2 separate regions of the Homo sapiens genome follow, and region 1 is reported to be linked to region 2. The links are microRNA targets in miRTarBase. Many come from high-throughput screens and were not tested one by one. Region 2 holds a microRNA gene; the other region holds the end of a gene's coding sequence.

What was found. The annotated mature microRNA hsa-miR-4740-5p reads AGGACUGAUCCUCUCGGGCAGG and lies in region 2 at 2,380-2,401, opposite strand. An mRNA with a match to its seed (bases 2 to 7 or 8) in the 3' UTR can be bound and repressed. Matches are read on the target gene's strand: a 7mer-m8 pairs with bases 2 to 8, a 7mer-A1 pairs with bases 2 to 7 and ends in A, and an 8mer does both.
Region 1: the mRNA of DNAAF2 is a reported target of hsa-miR-4740-5p. The part of its 3' UTR that is shown has no 7-base or 8-base seed match.

What each region holds. Positions count from the first base shown.
Region 1 is chr14:49,622,049-49,626,060 of GRCh38, reverse strand. DNAAF2 (dynein axonemal assembly factor 2) reads left to right here. Exons shown (of 3, transcript NM_018139.3): 3 at 13-887. The coding sequence ends at 519. It overlaps MGAT2 (alpha-1,6-mannosyl-glycoprotein 2-beta-N-acetylglucosaminyltransferase), which reads right to left. Exons shown (of 1, transcript NM_002408.4): 1 at 2,580-4,012. The coding sequence ends at 3,449. Among named protein-coding and RNA genes, the nearest start is that of MGAT2, 3.3 kb to the right of the region's middle.
Region 2 is chr17:81,398,374-81,402,521 of GRCh38, forward strand. MIR4740 (microRNA 4740) reads right to left here and starts at 2,405; the gene lies at 2,343-2,405. It overlaps BAHCC1 (BAH domain and coiled-coil containing 1), which reads left to right. Exons shown (of 28, transcript NM_001377448.1): 2 at 1,161-1,544. The coding sequence starts at 1,367. RefSeq lists enhancers at 3,419-3,598, 3,898-4,148.

The DNA.
Region 1 (4,012 bases), not on the chromosome of region 2:
CTCTTGACACAGTTGCAAGAATGTAGTAACTCTGATCAGCTACAAGGAAAGGAGGAAAGAGTAAATGAAGAAAGTCATCTAACTGAAAAGGAATATATAGAACATTGTAACACCCCTACAACTGATTCTGATTCATCTATAGCAGTTAAAGCACTACAAATAGATAGCTTTGGTTTAGTTACATGCTTTCAACAAGAGTCTCTTGATGTTTCTCAAATGATACTTGGAAAATCTCAGCAACCTGAGTCAAAAATGCAATCTGAATTTATAAAAGAAAAAAGTGCTACTTGTTCAAATGAGGAAAAAGATAACTTAAACGAGTCAGTAATAACTGAAGAGAAAGAAACAGATGGAGATCACCTATCTTCATTACTGAACAAAACTACGGTTCACAATATACCTGGATTCGACAGCATAAAAGAAACCAATATGCAGGATGGTAGTGTGCAGGTCATTAAAGATCATGTGACCAATTGTGCATTCAGTTTTCAGAATTCTTTGCTATATGATTTGGATTAATTCTATATAATTTTGGACTTTTAAATATTAAGGTTAAAAAATACCTGTATCTAAAATTGATTCTGTTAACTGTTGTCTTAAAACTAAAGGTATTAAAGTATAAAATTAAAATTTGCAATTTTTTTTAAAAAATTGCAATTTTGATTCTCATGGGGGAAATTGGAGATAATTTTTTTTTTTTTGCCTCTGGAGTTTAAAGTTTCCTTATGGAGATAAGTTTTGTGATTCCTGTAATAGATGTGTATGTTTTCTATTTGAGAGTTAAAACATTTGAGAGTTAAAACATTTAGTTTTAATACAACCTATGTATATATACTTCTGTGTTAAATTTTGCTTTGTCATTAATAAAATTTAAAAATATTCACTAATTGTGTTTGTCACACAAAGTAATTCTCAAGAATGCATTTAACTGGAATTATAAGTACATGTGTGGGGGGTAGAATTTCAAAACTGTTTCTCAGTCTCACTAAGTAGGACATATTTAAGCTTGAAATAGAGCTTAGAGGGGAAAGAACTTTACTAACCAATATTAATCTAAACAATTACGATACAAATTCACCAGATAAAATGTAGTACTTTTCATCAGCTCTATATTTTGTCACACAAACTATATATATTTTTGTTACATAAAGTATATATAATAGATTTAGTTATTTAGTAATGATTTTCAAAATTCAATTTTGAAGTATTTCTTAGAAGTTATTGAAATATTAAAACATCTTGTGGTTTTATAGAAATTTAAGAGTAAAACTGGAATTTTTAAAATCTGGCAATTTGCTCTGATAGGAAAATTGCCTTCATTACATTATTACACAGAAAAACAAAAAAAAGCCAGTGTTTCCTAATCACTTTCTTTTTTTTTAAGAGATGGGTCTTGCTATGTTGTCCAGACTGGATTCAAACTCTTAGGCTCAAGTGATCCTCTCATCTCAGCCTCCTGCATAATCAATTTCCTTTATAACACCTAAAATGTGAGGCAAAGAGAAGATCCTAACAGGTTTTTTTCTTACAAAAAATTTTAGGGCAGCCAAAGAAAATGAAAGGAAGGAAATACAGAAAGGGAAATATTTGTTGATTTAATCACTAACCCCAAAGCCAGGAGCTGATCTATTTGTTTCAAAAACAGCTACTACTTCACACTCTGGCCTTCTTAGCTCAGTCCTGGAAATAACCTAATTTTTTAGTTCTTTGAACTAGTGATGTCAGGTCAGAGTACCAGAAATAGGTACAAAGCCTCCTGATTCACCCTTATTTATAACCCCCAGGCAAAATCTTGCACCAGACTGGGCCGTGGGTAAGTCTAAAGGTAGCTCGTAAAGCAAGAGAACTATTTGCCTCACCTTAGATAAGCATATGTGCTCTTAAACTACTATGAATCTTAAATTGATGCAATAATTTTGAGACTGCCATTTAATAGTTACAAGTTTAAGTAACTTTTTTTTTTTTTCTTTAGATGGAGCCTTGCTCTGTTGCTCAGGCTGGCGTGCAGTGGCACGCTCTAGGCTCACTGCAACCTCTGCCTCGAGACTCAAAGGATCCTCCCACCTCAGCCTCTCAAGTAGCTGGGACTACAGATGCACCACTACACCCGGCTAATTTTTTGTATTTTTAGTAGAGATGGGTTTTCGCCATGTTGCCCAGGCTGGTCTCAAACTCTTGAGTTCAAGCAATCTGCCTGCCTCAACCTCCCAGAGTGCTGGGATTACAGACATGAGCCACCACACCCAGCCCGTAATATCTTTACACAGAAATTAGTCTTTTATGAGAAATTCTCGGTTGAATGCAATTACAAATTAAGGGAAACTTCTATAAACGTCTACATTAAATATGGAGCAAAATTTAAGCCTGTTTCCTATAATTTTCTGTATCTGTCCTTTTAAAACGTATGATTTAAGTTAAAGCTGGCACTAGAAAGTATTTCACTTTGGCATGACTGAACTTTGTATCATTTCTGGCTTTCAAAAACAATTTAGGCTGTATTTCCCTTACACAGCAACTTTTTATCATTCATTTTCAATGCCTGGGTAATTTGAAAGCCAAACAGTTTCTTGCACAGGGAATGCATTGTCATAAGCTGGGTTTTATTTCAAACTCAATTATACAATGTAGCAATAGTAAATATTAAAATGTAATGCTAACTCAAAACTTGTAGAATGCCTTCACTGAATTTTGGTATAAAGAGTAAACAAAACTTATTCTGCAAAAGGATTAGGAACCTTTTTATGCAAAAATGAGTATTTTATTTTGTCAGCACTAAAAGAAAAAAAAAAACAAAACCACTGTATTTCTACATTGAGGTGAAAACAATGTTTAAACTTTCTTATCAATCAAATACATTCCAAAAGAAAGTGTGTTCTATGAAGGTTCCAAAACACACTCAAAACACAATAGTACAGGAATCTAATACTGAAAATGACTGTTCTGACAGGGTGTTTAACAAACATAACTTTTAAATTATTAAACCAGTGAAGCAATCCCTTCCTAATAAGTGTGTCAAGAGAGTGAAACTGGGTTTGTTCCATTAATACCCTAACAATTTCATCGTAATACTTTTTACTGCTATGACAGTTTTAAATAAATTTTGCTGTACTTAAAATAGGTTTTGAAAGTGGAAAAGTGTACAAAGTTTCAGATAAAAAGATTAATAAATGCAATTTAAATAAAATTTCCCCTCTTCTCTCATATCAACAATAATCAATTTTAGCAGATAACAGATTGAGCTTTAAAACCCTACTCCCAAAATGAAACCTTCAGTTTTAAATCTTAATCAGACATAACTGGAAAAGATTACTATGTATTTGGACACCTTTTACAAGATTTTGTTTTTGTATTAAAGCAGAAACCAGTTCCTAAACTCTTTTATTCAATTGTATGTCCTGTTTGGACAAATATCAAAAATAGAAGACTGTCGCTTTTGTAACTGTGATTTTCACTGCAGTCTTCTATAACTTTTACAGAGTTCATGGTCCCTAATATCTCCCCACCCTCCATTTTTTCTAGGTGGGGAAATGGCTACCACAGTAAACTTTTCACTGATAGTTAGAGTTTCTGGAAACATGTATTGTTTGTTATTATTTAAGAGTGACTCAATTTGGGCACTCTGAGTGGATGGTCTACAGGTTTTCTTGTGATGCATACCACAGTCTCCAGCATGAAAGATCCTAGGAATTTGAGGAACCAGCACTTTCCAGAATTTTGGAAGACAAGATACAGTCAAGTATTGAAGAGTCCAGTCCCAGTTATAATCATCATAAGTACAGAAAGTGTCTGTGCACTCGATCAGCTTCTGATAGGCATTCCGGGTCAAGGCTAGACCCATATTGTGCTCTGTGGATTTCCAAGTTTTCACATCTACCTTGTCAGCCATGCCATAGAAACTGCGACTGGCACTATAGGTCCCCAGGGAGAGAACATCACATTCAGGGCACTCTTGCTGCTTCAGTTTCCACATCTTTTTGAAGACATGGTAAAAGTCTGGGGCTAAGTAGTGATC
Region 2 (4,148 bases):
TTTTAGGTGGCCGAGGTCCGGGCAGGGTCTGCTGGCAGAAGGTTGTGCTGGGCCGGGCCCACCTTCCCCGGCTAGAGGGCCGAGCTGGGCGCCGCAGACCCCGCGTACCCAGGCCGCCCGGTACTGCCCGGAGCGGAGACCGGCCTCTGCTCGCGGTCCCCGGCAGGCGCTGAAGGAAGAAATCCCAGGGCCGATTTGGGCCGTTGAGAGAGAGCATTCTGACTCTGAAAGCACCCCCCCCACACACACCCCCAAGCCCCCAATCCGCAGAGGAAGATCCTGGGCGAATTTGATTGGGGGGCGGGGTGATTGTTACAGCCTCAACAGGAAGCTCCCGGCTCCGGGACAGCAGGCCGGGCACTGCGGCGTGGCGGCCCAGGTGATGCCGGTGGCGGTTGCGGGCCTCCGGGGCTCTGAGGAGCCGGCCTGGGGTCCTAGCGCGATGCTGGGGACAGGAGCTGGTCCCGCTGGGGCTGGGGAGGGGGGACCACGGTGGATTCAGAAGAATGGGCCGAAAGATGCATGAGGGGGATGGGAGTGGGGAGAAAAGGAAGGTTATTAAAAAAAAAAAAAACTCTTGAGTTACAATCAATAAAATTACTCGCTTAATTAGCATGGTTATTCGGTTAAGCGGAATGCAGTAAAAGCTGGACCTCGGCATGAGGTGGGGAGAGGGGGAGAGCTAGTGTGGACCCCAGGCCTTTTCCTCCGAGACACCTTTGGGCAGCGGGGGAGGGGAGAGGGTGTGCGTGTGAGTGTGTGTGTGTGTGTGTGTGTGTGCGAGTGTGCGTGATGGCTTCGCAGATTTGGGTTTTTATCACCCAGCAGAGCCAGCAGCCTCTTCGCCGCGGCGCCCTAGCTGCAGGGACCCGCGGGGACGAGAACGGGAGGCGGCGAGCAGTGCGGCTGGGTTCCCCCGGCTGCCCCGGGCCAAGCGTGGCCGGGACGGTGCGTGCGCGCGCGGGGCCCCGGGTGCTGGGCTGCGCGCGCGTGCGGCGGGGAGACACCGAGCGCCCCGGCCCCGCCACCCGGCCTGGCCGCCGCTCGCTCGGGCCGGCGGGGGTGGGGGGTGGGGGGAGTGGGTGAGCGGGCGGGGCGGGGACCCCCGGGCGAGCCGAGCCCCCCAGTCACCCGTGTCTCCTCTGCTTTTGCCTCCACAGACCATGGACCCGCACAGCGGCCGCTGGCTCGGTGCGCGGCCGCCCGCCGAGAAGCCCAGTCCTCCCGCGTGCTGACCGGCCCCGCCGCCACCACCGCCTGTGACCCCGGACGCCGCCGCCTCTGCGCCGCCCGCGCGCCGAGCCGCCCCCGGGCCCCGGCCGCGCTGCTCCGAGGAAGCGGCGGCGGACCGGGGCCGGGGCCCGGCATGGATGGCCGCGACTTTGCGCCGCCGCCGCATCTGCTGTCGGAGCGCGGGAGCCTGGGCCACCGCAGCGCCGCTGCCGCCGCGCGTCTCGCCCCGGCTGGGCCCGCCGCGCAGCCCCCCGCACACTTCCAGCCGGGAAAGTACTTCCCGTCGCCGTTGCCCATGGCTTCGCACACAGGTCAGTGCTCGGCCGGGGCGGGCGCGGGACGGGAGCGTTCGAGAGCGGAACAGGGCGCCCACCCCTCCGCTCCCGGGAGCAGAGAAGCTTTGGTTTCATTTCCCGGCCCCGGCCGCGGTGGCTGCCTGGGCGCTGAGCGGGGCCGCGCGTCCCGCCAGCCCCCCAAGCTGCGTCGCCGCGGCTTAGAGAGGCCCTTCCCTGGCCACCCTCCCCCGGGGGTCTCGGAGGGGCAGCCCCGGAGCCGGCTGAAATTAAAGCCTTTCCGCGCCTCGCCACCCTCCCCCGCCCCCTCCTGCAGATCTAAATTCCACGGAAACCTCTTTTCTGCATTCTGCATTCACCTCCCTAAGACGTTCCGGGGCTGGGACAACGAGGCGCTTTCTGCGGAAACAAAACGGCTGTTGTGGCGGGGGGAGGGGACCAGGGTACGCCGCGGCCTCGCGGATTAGAGTGGTGTGTGCGCCGGGCGAGCGTTAATAGGGACTGCTGGTGTAAGACGAGCAAATCCTGTTTCTATATAAAGCCTTAAAGTGTCAGGGCGAGAATGGGTTTGCAGGGATGCATTTGCCTTAACGAGTGCCTCTGGTATCCCGCTAAAGCCGGACAAAGCGTGGCCAGAGTGCGGCCCAGCCTCTCAGCCTGCGGCCCGGGGAGGAGGGCAGCGCGGGCGCGGGCTGGGGGTGGCGCGGGGCGGCGCTCAGGATTTCGGTGCAGGCGAGAGTGCGGCGGATTTGCTCCAAGAGGAGAGCGAGGCGGATTTGCTCCAAGAGGAGAGCGTGGGGCGCCGTGCTGGGCCTCGCAGGGACGGATCCTCTCGGGCGGTCCCCTCTGACTCCCTGCCCGAGAGGATCAGTCCTTGGCAGAGCGGGCCCAGGCCTCCAGGGCAGCCCTCTTCCCGGTGGCTTTGATATGAGTGTCGAGGGAGGTCAGGGTAGGGGCAGCTACCACGCCTGAAGCCCTAGAGGTCACCAGGCGGCGCGGGTAGATTCGGGGGAAGCGCGCAGGGCTGCGCTAGGGACCCGCCGGGTCACCCTGGTACATGGGTGGCTTTTGTTTACAGTTTGTTCTAAACATCAGAAATGTTTGTCGCTTTTAAAAACAAAATTGGCAGTAACAGTTATTATTGGTAGCTTGATGAACTGTGAATACTAATAAAATTATATCTGCTTTAATGGGATTACAATTAGTGTGTGGATTAAAACGGATGGCAGAGACGGGGCTAGAAAGGAAAACGTCGGAAAAAGGGAGGGCACTCAAAGAAAAACGTACATTTTCTAGAAAAAAACAAACTTGAAATTGCTTAATTGCTAACGGGCTTCCAGCATTTGCAGCGCCAGGAGATTGGAATGGGGGAGCCGCCCAGTGGAGGGGTCTCCCCAGCACTTCCCGGGTTGGCCCACACCCGCTTCCCTCCCTGCCTGGGCCTTTGGCGAGGCTGCCCTTTTCTCTCTGTTGCCCTTCCTTCTTTTTCTCCCTTTCTTTTTTCTCCTCTAGATTTGTAACTGGAAAGAGAAGGAGAAAAAGCACTTGCCTGAGCGATGGGTGATTTAAAAATATCTCTTCTGCTGTCCCTGTGGTTATCAAGCTTGTCTTCCTGCCCCTGCATGGGAGCTGCTGCCCACCCGGCTCAGGTGCACGGGGCGCTGAGGCTGGGGCCGCCCTGGCAGAAGGGACAGCTCGCCAGCCTCCCCACCAGCCCCTCTTCTGGCTGAAGGCTGGTGGCCCCCACTGGGGGTAGGGGGATTGTGTGCACCCCACCTCCACTGTACCGTGCCCTCCAGCCTGGCAAGTAACAGCACGACAGAGACAGGGGCCCCTGACACTGAGGCTTGCATGTTGGTGCACAGGCAGGCTGGGGCTGTCCCCTCCGGGAGGCAAGGCCAAATTCCCCATCAGGTCAGGTCAGCACTCTCCCTGACCCCATGCCCCAGCTCACATCCTGGCCAGGTCCAGGCCAGCTGCATTCTCCCCCTTCTGCCCTTACTTCCAGGTCTAGGCAGCACCCGGGTAGGTGGGCGCCTGGTCGGGTGGCCTAGCCCTTTGTCTTGCTCATTCTAAGTTTGGCCACGTGGTTCTTGGCGTGTAGGCCCCGGAGGGCTGTGAGAAACGGCTCTGGGCTCTGGCCTGGCCTGTGTCCTCCCTGCTTCTTCTTGATCCCAGGTCCTCCCAGCCTCCCCAAGCGCAGGGTGCTCTAGAGGGCGCTGGAGGCCCCTCGGGGCTGCCTCTTTCAGGGTCTGAAGGGTCATGTGTCCCCGTCCCTGGAGGCCCCATTTCCTCCCCCCTGCGGACCGAAGAGAACGCTTGTGCTCGGAGATGTTCAACCCATTTGTGATGGGCAACTTGGTCATGCAGACATCCAGCTAGAAGCATCTGTAGCTGAAAGAAAGCCTTTTGAAATTGTTAAGAGCCAGAATATTGTATTGGTTTTTAAAATTTAGCTGCATGTATTTTTTTAAAAAAAGAATTATACCCCAGATCACTTTGCTTTGGTCTGTGTCTATATATGATCTAGTTTAGAGAGAAAAAAGCATAATTACGTTAAACAATTTTTTTGCGTCTTGTGTGCGGACTTCCACATGGCTGGTTTGGCTGCCTTGCTTCCCA